Linked DNA regions of Homo sapiens. The protein of the gene in region 2 purifies or fractionates together with the protein of the main gene of each other region. This does not show direct contact. Each region holds a gene or a part of one and is shown on either strand. Other genes may lie near its edges.

Region 1 (7,833 bases), on a different chromosome or scaffold from region 2:
TCACTGAAGTCCAGCCCGCCTGGGGTGCTAGTTCGGGGTCCAGGTCCGGGTGCGGTGGGTTGGGGCTCGTTAAGTGTCCTGCTCGTCAGAGAAAAGCTGGGGACCCCAAGCAGAAAGAGCATCCTAGGGCCTTCCTCGCTTAGCCGAGCCCTCGAGACTTGGAGCTTAGCACTACCTCCTGGTCTCGGGGCTCTCATCAGTATGCGCCCCTACCTCAACTTCCCGCACCCCACCCGCCTCCTTTCACCTGTGGGTCTCCCAGACCCGGAGTCAATATCCCAGAGGAGAAATGAGGGGTCTGACAGCTCTCTGTGCAGCCGATCCCCACATTTCATTAACTGGAGGCTGGAGCTGGCAAGCGGTGGAGGCAGAGGGGGGCACAAAGGGAGGTGGAGGAGTCAAAGGCTAGGAGCAGCACCTGGCCAGGGGTGGAGGGCTGCCGAAGTAAGTCAGCAACAGCTCTGACCTGGCAGACACCTTGGAAGCAGTCTTTACCCACTCTCTGAGAAGCCAGGAGCTTGTCTTCAGCCCTGTGGACCCTGGTGCGATACTTTGAACTTAAGGTTGCACTGAGTTTTGGTGCCAGAGGCACTGGCTGATGAGTGGGAGCCCTGGGCCTGGCCGTGATGGCAGAGGCAGGAGGGTAGTCTCTGCAAGGAGGCAAACCATGAGCAGGTTCTTGGGCTGGGACGGTTTTCCCAGCTGCAGTCGGAGAACAGCCGGCTTCAGGCTTCCCTTTTGTCCCTTAAGCAAATTTTCCTTGACTCGCTTCGTTTTCCTTTGCCTTCCTTTTTCTCTGCCCTCTCTTCCTCCATCTGGACGGTTGTTCTCTGAAACTAACTTTGGCCATCCTTTAGCCAACAGTTGAGCACCTGTTGGGCATCATGCTTAACAGTGTCAGGGTGGGGGTTGGGGGATACACGGAGCCAAGACCCAACCCTTTTGGCCTCACATACAAAAGGCTCCCGGAAGCCATTCAAATCTCACTGCCCACTCCTGGCCTGCCTCTCTCACTCTTCCACTGCCTTGGGTGCCATTTGTCTCCTCTAGGGAACTGAGAAGGAAGCCAGGAGGTCATAACTCTAATTCCAGGACTATCCCTTACAGGGTGATAATGGACAAGCCATTTCCCCTTTCTGGGCCCCAGTTTTTTTATCTTTAAAATGGGGACAATAGATCTAACTCTAAAGGGTGCTGTGAGGATGCAACGAGAAGTTGCATGTTAAAGCCCTAAAATACAATAAGGACTCAATAATGTTGTTTCCCTTTCCATGCCGTCCCCTGTCCTCTCACGTGGATTCCCTTGTCTTCATACTAGAGGACTGCTACCAGGCAACCCAGGCTGCTTCCAGATCCATGTGATCTTCAATGTGGGAGTTGAAAGCCAGAGTGTGGGAATGAGTAGGGAGAACCACACTGTGACGGGCCCTGAAGGGGAGGAAGGAGAGAGTGCAAGGAAAAAAAAAAAAGTGTTTCCTTAGATCTTGATAAAATGTCAGGCAGCGAGGAGGTTTCTCTTCTCTTACTGATGAGGAAACTGAGGCACGTTCAAGTGATGCAGGCATATCATGCTGCTGGAGCCTTCCCTCCCAAGGGCCCTCTATTGCTCACCTCTTCACCCCCTTTCTTCCCTTGAGGGGGTCTGGGTCAGTGACAGTAAGTGTGAGAGAAGGAACAAAAAGAGAGAACTTTCAAGGAGCCAGGACCTTTCCACTAGACTTCATAAAATTTTAACATGAAAACTTCCACAGAGTAGAAGGCACATATCACATGCAAATCATATGCTAATCACATGCTAATCCAAAGTCTGGTCCTCAGAACTCTGACACACACCTAGCTATAGCCCTGGGGGGGATTCTGGGGATCCCCCTGGGTTCCAGGACAGGTGAGGGAGGCATTCCATTTAGGGTCAGTTTATGGAGTTAAAATTCATTTTAGGATTGAAGAGGAGTCGAGTATATAAATAGGGGTTAGGGTCAAGGCTAATGCAGAGTCAAGGACAGACTGGTCTGTCTGAAGGCTGCATTAACCTTTAAGTGGGGGAGCCTAGGAAACTGTTAAAGGCTTCCTCTCCTCTCCGCTCCCCCTGCCAACTCTGCCCCCCACTTCCACTGCCCCTTCTTTGTCCTGCAGCACACCCTTCTCTACCTACTTCCCATTCCCAACCATACCACCTCCCTGGGGCTTCCCAGTTTGGCTGCCAGAGGAGTTCTGGGAAAATTGTCCCAGACCCTGGCCTGGGCCCCAGCATTGCCTCGAGCCCAGACACTTGGCTTCTGGCCCAAGGTGCACAGGCTGGCCTTGGCCCCACCCAGGTCCCTTCTTGGCAGAATGTGGCAGCTGCAGGGGAAGCAATAAGGACCTGGTGAGCTGGCAGCTTCATTCCAGAGTGTGGGAAAAGAGCAACAGAACATGAATAAATTCATGGAGCTGGCCCCTCAGCTCCCCGTGAGCCAAGCCGGCTCCCCCGACCACACAGATCCGCTGCTGCCTGCAGCCCTGCTGGTCACCACATCTCACAGCCTGGGCTGGGGATGGGAGGAGAGGGGAAGCTCTAGAGAGAAGAGGACTGGGACCTGAAAGGGGCTGAGGTGAGGGACTTAAAAAGGGGACCTTGGTGAGTAGAATGAGTGGAGTGAGGAGTGTGGCTGGGCAGAGGGGGTCTCTGGTGAGTGGAGGGAGGGAAAAGGGAGGGAGAGGAGTCAGGACCTGGGGTGGATGGGGCCTGAGGATCAGGCAGGGGAGGCTGGTGTGAGCCTGGGCCTGCTCTCTGATCCATCCATCATCCAGCCTGGGGGAGCAGATCCGGAATTAGACATGCAGAGGGCTGACACGGCCCTCAGCCCCCCGAGGAAGACAAATGGCGACAAAGACCTTGAATAAAATTTGTATTTATGGTTGGAGGAGGAGGCCCCTCCCCCACTGACTGCCAATCCTTTCTCTCCCACTCCTTGCAGACATGTAGGGGCCTCCCCCAACCCCCAACACAGGCCCAGCCTTAGGAACCTCTCTCTCCCAGCATCATTATGAGGCGGGGGTCGGGGGTGCAAGGAAGGAGTACAGAAAACAAGAGAGGAGGAAATCACTCTCCATCCAATAATCATGCCCTGGTGTGCCCTGTGCCCTCCATCTTACACAATGTTCTCCCATACATGATAGTCCTGGCTTATCCTGGTCTCTAAGAGGCCTTTGCAGCTGCTCACCTCCAGGGTCTCCAAATGCCCCCACTTTTTACCAGTCCTAGAACCTGTTTTCCTAGCCTCTGGGGTCCCTGTGAGCAAGACATTTTCCCCAGAAGGCCCAGGCCCTAAGAGAGGATGCAGCCAGTAGCTTTTTCTCTGGACTCTGATCTAGCAATGCCTGTGTCTAGCAATGTCTTGGCCGCTCGGAAAGACAGATACAGTCCCCTCTTACAGGAGGGTGCCTAGCACCTAATCTGCATTTTACTTACATTAATTTGCATGGCCAACTTCAACCCCCACCCAAATACCCATTATGTGGGATCCAACTTCTCTGGGTTTCATCTAACAACAAACTCTTGAAGAAGGAGGAAGGGGCAGAGACTCCTGGGACTGGATAAGTCTGGGACCAGGGCAGGGGTGGCATTGGGCTGAGCTGGGCAGGGCAAATGAGAAGACAGCTGTCTTCTGACTTCCTCTCTGTCCAGTAGAGTCCTTCATTCTCAGTCCCAAGGTAGGAAAAATGGCATTTGTGGGCTCCAAATTGAGGGACTAGGAGGAAGACAAATACAAATACCTCCCTTCAAACAGCCCTCACATATACATACACAAAGACAACACACAATCCACAATCGCACTCACCCAGGGACACACAGGGCCAGGATCCCATGGCCACCTCCACACTTTGGAGCACACTGTCACAATGCACAGGCCCAGAGCCTAGCACTGCTGGCAGAGCCGCCCTGCCCCCGCATCTTCCCCACAGTTGATATGTCACATTGGAGTCCAAACACGGACCTGGGTGTCTCTCTGCAGCGCGCCATTTACATTTCTCTCTCGATCTGTCAACCTGTCCCGGCTCTGTCTCTCTTCCTCTGTCTCTGTCTCTCCCTCTCCCCCTCTGGGGCTGTCAGTCCGTCTCTTTTCGAAGCTTTGTCTCTGTCTCTGCATCTCTATCTAGCTTTCCTTCTCTTTGATTTCTGTCGCTCCTTCTCTGCTTTCTTGTCGGTTTCTTGCTTGCTCCCCCGGGCTGATCTGTTCTCTTATTTTCTCTCTCTCTCTCTCTCTCTCTCTCTCTCCACACAAACACACACACACACACACACACACACACACACACACACACTCCGCTCCGCGCCCCAATACTGAGGGGTGGGGGTAGGGTTGGCTAGAGATTTGCCTTTTCCAGTTCAGGCCAACTAGTATCAGTTGAATCCTTTACCATGTTATTCGGTCACGGGCGCTGAGGTGCGTGGGGTGGTGAATTTCTATCTTTTCTAGCCCTTCTTATTTTGTTTTCTGTTTGTTTGTGAGGTCCCTCCCCCTCATTTTAGCTCGGGAATCTACCCCTGTCTTCTCTGCGTGTTTGTATCTTGACCCCTCTTTATCCCATCGCTGTTTTGGGTTTCCTCTGGCCTCTGAGAATGCCAAACTCCGGGTAAAGGGTAAAAGTAAAGATACAGCGGGGGCCGCGAAACCCTGAAGAACCCGCTCAGAGCCGGGAAGGAACCTAGGGGCAGTGGGGGAGTGGAGGGGAGGCGGGGAGGACGTGGGTGGGGGCCGCTGCCTGCCCCGCCCCCGCACTTCCCACTCTGGGCACCAGGGGTCGCTCCGCCTCTGGCCGCTTATAGTGGCTCCCGCCGCGCGGCGCCTCATACCACCCGCGCCCGGGAGGGAGGGGAGGAAGGTTAGGGAGGCGGAGAGGGACCGCGCCCGCAGGAGAGAGGCGCGGGCCAGGGCTCTAGCAGGGACTGGGGCCGCGGCAGGGGTAGCAAGGTGAGTCGGTGCTTGCCAAGAGGCAGAGCGCAAAACCTACTAGGAGATCGCGCCCGGTGAGCAGCACCCGCAGCTCAGAGCCCGGGACGTCCGGAGCGCGGGGAGCAGTCCCCTCTCCATCAGGGAGTGGTCTATCTGGGCAGTCTGGGACCCAGGCACCGCGCCATCCCTGAGAGAGCAGCAGTCTGGAGAGCAGGCATCTCAGATCCCTAAGAAACCAGCCGTCCGAGAAGCCGCGGATCTCAGGTGCCCAGGATCGTTAGGACTGAACGGGAGGGTACTAGAGGACCACTGGCTCTGGACCGTCGGGAGCTGCCCCTGACGTAACCCACGAGGGGCCTCCCCTTGACGGACGGCTTGGGGAGCGGCACCGCCGCGGCTGGAGCCCGCAGAGGCAGGGTAAGGGGAGCGGGGGGCAGCCGTCGGGGGAGTGCAGACCCAGGCCCAAGGCGGGTCACCGCCTCCTGGCCCGCGGAGAGCCCCGGCCCCGGCAGCCATTGCGCCCAAGAGTGAGGAAGATTTGCTGGCCCTGGCAGCGTCGCGGCTGAGCCGCCGCAAGAGGGTGGCGGGCGCGGCCGTCGGAGTGGCCATGGTGCTGCTGCTGCTGGTGGCCATCCCGCTGCTGGTGCACAGCTCCCGCGGGCCAGCGCACTACGAGATGCTGGGTCGCTGCCGCATGGTGTGCGACCCGCATGGGCCCCGTGGCCCTGGTCCCGACGGCGCGCCTGCTTCCGTGCCCCCCTTCCCGCCAGGCGCCAAGGGAGAGGTGGGCCGGCGCGGGAAAGCAGGCCTGCGGGGGCCCCCTGGACCACCAGGTCCAAGAGGGCCCCCAGGAGAACCCGGCAGGCCAGGCCCCCCGGGCCCTCCCGGTCCAGGTCCGGGCGGGGTGGCGCCCGCTGCCGGCTACGTGCCTCGCATTGCTTTCTACGCGGGCCTGCGGCGGCCCCACGAGGGTTACGAGGTGCTGCGCTTCGACGACGTGGTGACCAACGTGGGCAACGCCTACGAGGCAGCCAGCGGCAAGTTTACTTGCCCCATGCCAGGCGTCTACTTCTTCGCTTACCACGTGCTCATGCGCGGCGGCGACGGCACCAGCATGTGGGCCGACCTCATGAAGAACGGACAGGTGAGATGCCCCTCTCCCCAACCCAGCTCAGACTGGTCGCTCTCTAGATCTCCCTGCACTCATCCCACAACCTGAGATTATTCCCCGAAACAGCGTCACTGAATCCAGGAACGCGAGGCTGCCAAGAACGATAGATGACTTCATTTACCCACAGAGGAAATTGGGGGCCAGAGAAGGAAAACCTTCTGCCTAGGGCCTCACGGAGTGTAGGAATGGTGTTAGAATTAGAACTCAGGACTTAAACCTGAGTGTCTCTGCAGCTGTGACCTCACATTGCAACTATGGGCAACACCAGATGTCTTTGGTGTCTCGCCCTGCCAACTCGCTTCTTTTCTCGTCCTGTCTTGGGCTATCCTTTCTTCTGCGGCAGCCCCCCTGGCCTTTGGGTCTCTCAGCCTTGCATTGGACCAGCTAACTGGAGTCTAGGCTCCTTCGAATTAGAATGGAATCCATGTCTCAGGCAATAGGAAGTCAGCAGCTGTTCTCATGTTGAGGGCATTCGGGTTGGATGTTTGAGGAAAAGGTATAAAAGGAAGAAAACATTTGCCTGCTCACTTCACCTGCCGATCAGCTGTTCTGTTGCTCACCCCAGGGCTGGGGGCCTAGAACGGCCTTGCCCTCAGCAGAGTCTGTGGCTTGGCAGCTCAAGGGCCAGCCAGGTGGCTGGAATGAATGGATTTGGGGGAGGAAAGAGGCAAGGGACAGGTAGAATAGCCTTGGGCCCTGGCCTGGTCTTGTAGGCCCCACACCCTCCCTAGCAATCTCTCAGTATCCAGGTTCCACAGTTCCCTGCCCTTGTGGGCAGTTGGAGTCACTGTTGCCTCTGTTTTCGGGGAATAGCCCCAAGGACTAAGCTCTAGCACCAAAATTTCACACATAGTGGGAACTAGAGGCCGCAGGTGTGGGGTAGGTGGGAGAAGGTGCCAGAGCTGCACAGGCTGCAGAGGGAGGTTGGGGCTGAGTGGTGACCTCTGGATGTCCAGCATGAAGGGGGTGGTGGCGACCCAGGAGCTTCAGGCCTGCAGGAGCCTGGTACCGCGGCAGCATCTACCTGCCCCGAGACCTGCTTTGGGATCTCATCCCAGCCGGGCTGCCCCAGGAACCCGGGGAAAGGGAGTGAGTGTGCGTCCTCATGGAGTGAAAGAATATGTATGTGTGTCAGGGAGTGTGTGTGAGTGCGGAGTGCGATGTGAGAGTAGAGCGGTGTCTATCTGTATATGACATCGAGTAGGTGTGCTTGGTCCATGCAGGGTATCTGGGAGGAGGTGGAGGGGGCCAGTGTGTAACTAATTCGTGCGGGTTTCAGAGGGGGAGGGGACTGCGCAGCTCCCACTCTGTATTCTTCAGTGCGGGCGCTGCGGCCCTGGGGACGGTAAATAGTGATTAGAATAATGATGAATAATTAATGAGTTAATAACCAGCCCCTGTGGGACTCTCTAGAAGAGGGGGGCTGAAGGCCCGAAGCGACCGCCATGAGCCCGGAGGGGAGGAAGTGCTCCCTGTTCTGGCAGAAGACGACCCCCCACGCCTGGGCACCAGTGGGTGCTTGGTCGGGAAATCCGCGCCCACAGGCGAGAGCGCAACAGTGCACCTTATCATGGCCCGCACCCTATGCACACGCACAGGCACACCTATGCCCCACCACTGGGGAAGCCAACCCTCCATGAGGACTGACAGGAGGTCCCAGCCGGTTCAGAATTTTAGAAATTATCCTATAGGCAAAATTTTATTTTATTTTATTTATTTTTTGAG
Region 2 (4,830 bases):
TTGCTTAAGGAACAAAACTGGCTGACCCAGAGTGAGGGCAGAGATATCACCAATCTTGAGCCCAGAGTTTTACCTTTCCAATCACAGCTTTGCTTGGATTACACAAGATTGCTTCTAAGGAATAAATAGATGCCTTTATAGTATGTTACCTCAGTGACTTGAGCCACATTGTCCTGATTAAACTAATAGGATGATGGATTCTTAAGAGTAGTATTTTTCAGCTTGGAAAAAATGTTGCCTTGTGATTGACAAAAAAATTGCTTGCCTTTTTAAAATGTAATTCAAGCCATCAAAACAATTTTAAATATTATAACCAAAAACATGTCAAGACAATAAATAGTAACTGCAGAATATTTGTTCAAACTGCATATTTCTCTGTCACCTGCTTCTTTCCCTCCCAGGAGAAAATTACAACTTTGGGGTGATTTTGTCATTTTTCTATCCCTAGTCATCAGCCCTTGACCCTGACTCAGATTGCATGTGGTTTTGTGGGTACCTCTTCACAGTCAACAATGAGTGGTTGGGTCTGTGGGAATAAAGATGCATCACCAATATAGGGACATATCCATGACAACTGTAAAAGCCACCCATCACTTTATTGTCCTACTTTTTTATTAACTTTGAACAATGAAAAGCCTTGAAAGAATGGTTGAGAACAGCAAATTGCTGCTTTCAAATTAATTCAGCCTAAAAATCTATTGATGTTATTTTATTGCGTCGTAAATAAGGAGTAGGTAAAACATTTTGTGCTTTAATAAGTGAGGCACAGCTTAAAAGTTTTAAACAGCAATATAAAAATACAGTACAGTGCATAAATAAATAATATATCTCCACTTCTAGTCGAATTTTGAAACCCTCAGTGTAAATTATAACTTCACTTGAATGGGAGGCACAAGGTACATGTGCTAATGTTCTGTAAATCCAGAAAATCATATCACATAAGATTCAATAAGGAATTAAAGAAATCAAATTAATCACACTTGTGTTAACTAAATAAGAATAGGTCAGATACCTGTTTCCAAGTTATGCTGGGTATATAAAAAGCTTCTCTGCAATCATAGAAAAGTTTGAAAAGGTTCATTGATGAAAGCACCTTGCATTTCAGATGAACTTCAATATTTTGGGGCTTTTTTATATAAGAGCTTTAACAAGTATATATGCACCTGTATATTTGAATAGATATTGATGAAAGGGGCCATACAGGCCTCAGAGTAGTGCACCATCAGAAATATTTTAGGGGATACAGTGTCTTTTAAATTTGAATATTCAAGTATTTAAGTTCTACAAAGTTATATGATACCTCCTGGATGTTTCCTAGAAGTTCTCATATTCATAGTTAGAAACAGGCTTTTTTAAAAAGGAAATGCCGAGTTTCTCAAATCAAATTTCACATAACTTAGAGCTCTATTTCTGTTTTTTTTTTTAATTTTTTTTTTGTTGTTTGTTTTTTGTTGTTTGTTTTTAACATAGCAGGACTTCTTTGGTGATATTTTTTAATATTGGAGAAAACCTTAAAGAGCCTTAAGATTGCTAACTAGAAATTCAAGAGAGGCTTCACATACGTTTTTACGTTGCTGCTCACTTTTCAGGGGGAAGGTTTGTTGGTCTGATAGCTCAAATCTGTATTTCAGAAAATAAAAATTACATTCTTTTCAGCCTACCTCCATATGCATTTTGTAGGGTGGGGTAGAGTTAGAGAATGCTTTTTCTAGCACAAGATTTAGATTAGCTCTGTGTGTACTCACATTGGAGCCACTAGGAATCCTGAGAAAGAGGAGTGGACATACTCAGAGGAGTATAGGCCATTTGACTCGGCATTGGGAAGCTGGAGCCACACCTGGTCATTTTCTGTGAGATCGATGATGGCACTCCCTGAAGCCTGATCCAGGTAGCCTTTGGTGTATTCATCATAGGTGTACATTACAGGGGTGCCATTCTTATACAGGCCTACCCAAACATGAGTCCCTTTCACATGCACGTGGTATGAAAAATAGTATATTCCTGGTATCTGACAAGTAAAGATTCCAGTCCTTGGGTCATAATGCTGTTGCCTGTTATACAAAATTTTATCAAATGGTATGGGAGTTCCTATTGCTGGGTAAGCTTTGGAGAGAATAACAGTAAAAGCAGACACAGGCATTCCTGTTACCCCCTGGTTGGCACTAACAAGAGGGGTCCCAGAAAGACTGGGCCTTTGGCCTGCCTTTATAAAACCCTCAGGCATGACTGCTTGACCTGGTGGGCCTGGAGGCCCAGGGGGCCCTGGAAGACCAGGCTCTCCAGAGTGGCCTCTTGGACCTGGAGGCCCTGGTGGCCCGGTGGGTCCATTGAGGCCCTTAGTTGCTATGCCAGCTGGGCCAGGAGGACCGGGACTTCCTGGATCCCCTTTAGACCCAGGGAATCCTGGAATGCCTGGTGGCCCAATAGGGCCTCTAGTACCTGGTATTCCAGGGGCACCTCTTGGGCCAGCCTCTCCATTGTGTCCGGGCATTCCCTTTGCTCCTGCTGGGCCCACAGGGCCTGGGAGACCAGGAGGTCCTCCAACTCCAGGATCACCTTTTGGACCTGGTAACCCTGGGTTACCCTTAGGACCATCGAGACCTGGTTTTCCTGGGTACCCTGGTTTTCCATCTGACCCAGGGGAACCCCTTTCACCCTTAGCCCCAGGGTATCCTGCAGGCCCAGCTGGCCCTGTCTCACCTTTAGGGCCTGGGAGACCATGGCTACCCGGGATGCCTTTTGGTCCTTGGGGTCCCATATTCCCAGGGGGTCCAGTCAGACCTGGCTTCCCAGGAAGACCTGCTGGCCCTTGTTCCCCTTTGGCACCTGGACCCCCAGGAAGGCCAGCAGGTCCTCTTTCTCCCTTCAGGCCTGGCAAGCCTGGTTTCCCAAAGCCAGGAGGCCCTGGGGGCCCAGCTATTCCTGGAGCCCCAGGGAGACCTTTTGTTCCTGGAATCCCTGGCTGGCCTGGGGCTCCAGCAGCTCCTGGCTTTCCAATGCCTTCTGGCCCTCGTTCCCCAGGAGGGCCTTGGGGACCTGGTGGGCCAATTGGTCCCATTTCTCCCGGAAAACCTCTATCACCTTTGATGCCTGGCTGTCCTGGAACCCCATTTTCACCTCTTTTTCCCACTCCAGGAGGGCCAGATGGTCCTGTGGGACCCTGAGGGCCTGGAAGACCCCTCTCACCTGGACGACCAGGAGCACCATATCCCATTTCCCCTTTCTGTCCATTCATACCAGGGACTCCTGGTGCACCCTTTTCTCCAGGAAAGCCCCTGGGTCCTGGGGCTCCTGTGGGTCCCTGTTGTCCAGGTTTTCCTGGCACAGAAATTCCAGCCGGTCCAGGGATTCCAGGTGGTCCTGGTGGGCCCCGGGGTCCTGGTAGGCCAGCTGGTCCAACATCTCCTTTTGGTCCATATGGTCCTCTCTCTCCTGGTTTTCCTGGGAGTCCTGGCACACCTGGTTTCCCTACAGCTGATGGTCCCGGTGGTCCTGGCAACCCTGGCTCTCCTTGGAGTCCAGGACTTCCGTAGCCTGGTTTTCCTGGTGGTCCAGAAGGACCTGGGTGCCCTCGAGGTCCAGCAGGGCCTGGTGGACCAGGAGTACCTTGCTCTCCTCTTACTGCTATACCTAAAAGACACACCCAACACACCCACCCATAGAAGGGGATGGTTAGTGACATTAAAGAGAATCATTGCCTTTCAAACTATGAATTGGGACACGATATTTCAGCATCATTTATTCCATGTAGACAGAACAGTCTGAAATGGTTTTAGATTATATGTTTTATACTGTTTTAAAAAATTCTGCTGGAGAAGATGGTTTCACAAAACCATGGCTACCATAATACTTTTATCCCATGACAGTGATTCATGAAAATGAGCTAGGATTGAAGAATTCCTCTAGAATAAGTGCAGTGGAGGTAAATTTAGTACATTTATTTTGGGAAAATCATGTACAGAAAAGGCAGAAAAAGACAGTGCAGAATAAGTGAGAAAATGTTTAAGAACTATAAAAATTTTCCCTCCCAAAGCTACCCTGTCAGACATAAAAGAGAAACAGAATTAATTCTGATTTACATCTGCCATGCCTCTGCTGAACACAGGTTAGATTTTGGTTGATTTACTTTTACCTCAGAATATACTCTGAGCTCTTATACTCTCCATTATTGACTTAAAATTGAAACAAAGAACTAGAGAATTAGACATAATAGGTGAGGTACATAAAATAGTATTAAAGTTCTTACCTAAATACAAATATATAGTGTTTGATTTCATAGAGCTGTGAGTTCACTTGACCTGATAAACTAAACTTAAACTAAAAATCATAGTGCCTGTGATGTGAAAAATGCGGCTGGGCCACAAGTATGGGGAAAGCACAGGGTACAGATGTTTCTGAGATTTGGAAAACATTTGGTGTATATAAATGCAGAGCGAATCATTAAAATAGATATGCCGAAATAGGAAAATAATTGTTTCAGATTTAGATTTTTTTTTACTAATTAGAGTTATATTTCAATTTGAAAACATTGATTAATATAAATACATAGAGCTTTCCCCATGGATTTTCAGAAAATGACATCAGGAAAAAGACTGTGAGAAAAATTTATGTAAAAGATTTCCGTATATTAAATATTTCATTGATTGTAGTGTACATACATGATTATATTATGTATAAGTGGATATTGATATATTGCAAATAGAGGAATAAATAAGGAATTTTTTAATGGGTTGGAGGAATAAAATAGTGGATTTTTTAAAATGCCAACTATGTTAGATTGAGCTTTGCTTTAGAATCTGATTATAAGGGTCATGTTCACACTAAAAATAA

What was found. Proteins that work in one complex are often made in the same cells at the same time.
Region 1: the proteins of COL10A1 (region 2) and C1QL4 purify together in Homo sapiens (co-immunoprecipitation; 3 studies listed by BioGRID and IntAct, with this or other methods). This does not show direct contact.

What each region holds. Positions count from the first base shown.
Region 1 is NC_000012.12:49,334,189-49,342,021, reverse strand, and holds the start of C1QL4 (complement C1q-like protein 4 precursor), read left to right. Parts: upstream 1-4,833; 5' UTR 4,834-5,544; coding exon 5,545-6,081; intron 6,082-7,833. UniProt on the Homo sapiens protein: May regulate the number of excitatory synapses that are formed on hippocampus neurons. Has no effect on inhibitory synapses. May inhibit adipocyte differentiation at an early stage of the process.
Region 2 is NC_000006.12:116,118,332-116,123,161, forward strand, and holds the end of COL10A1 (collagen alpha-1(X) chain precursor), read right to left. Parts: intron 3,631-4,830; coding exon 1,742-3,630; 3' UTR 578-1,741; downstream 1-577.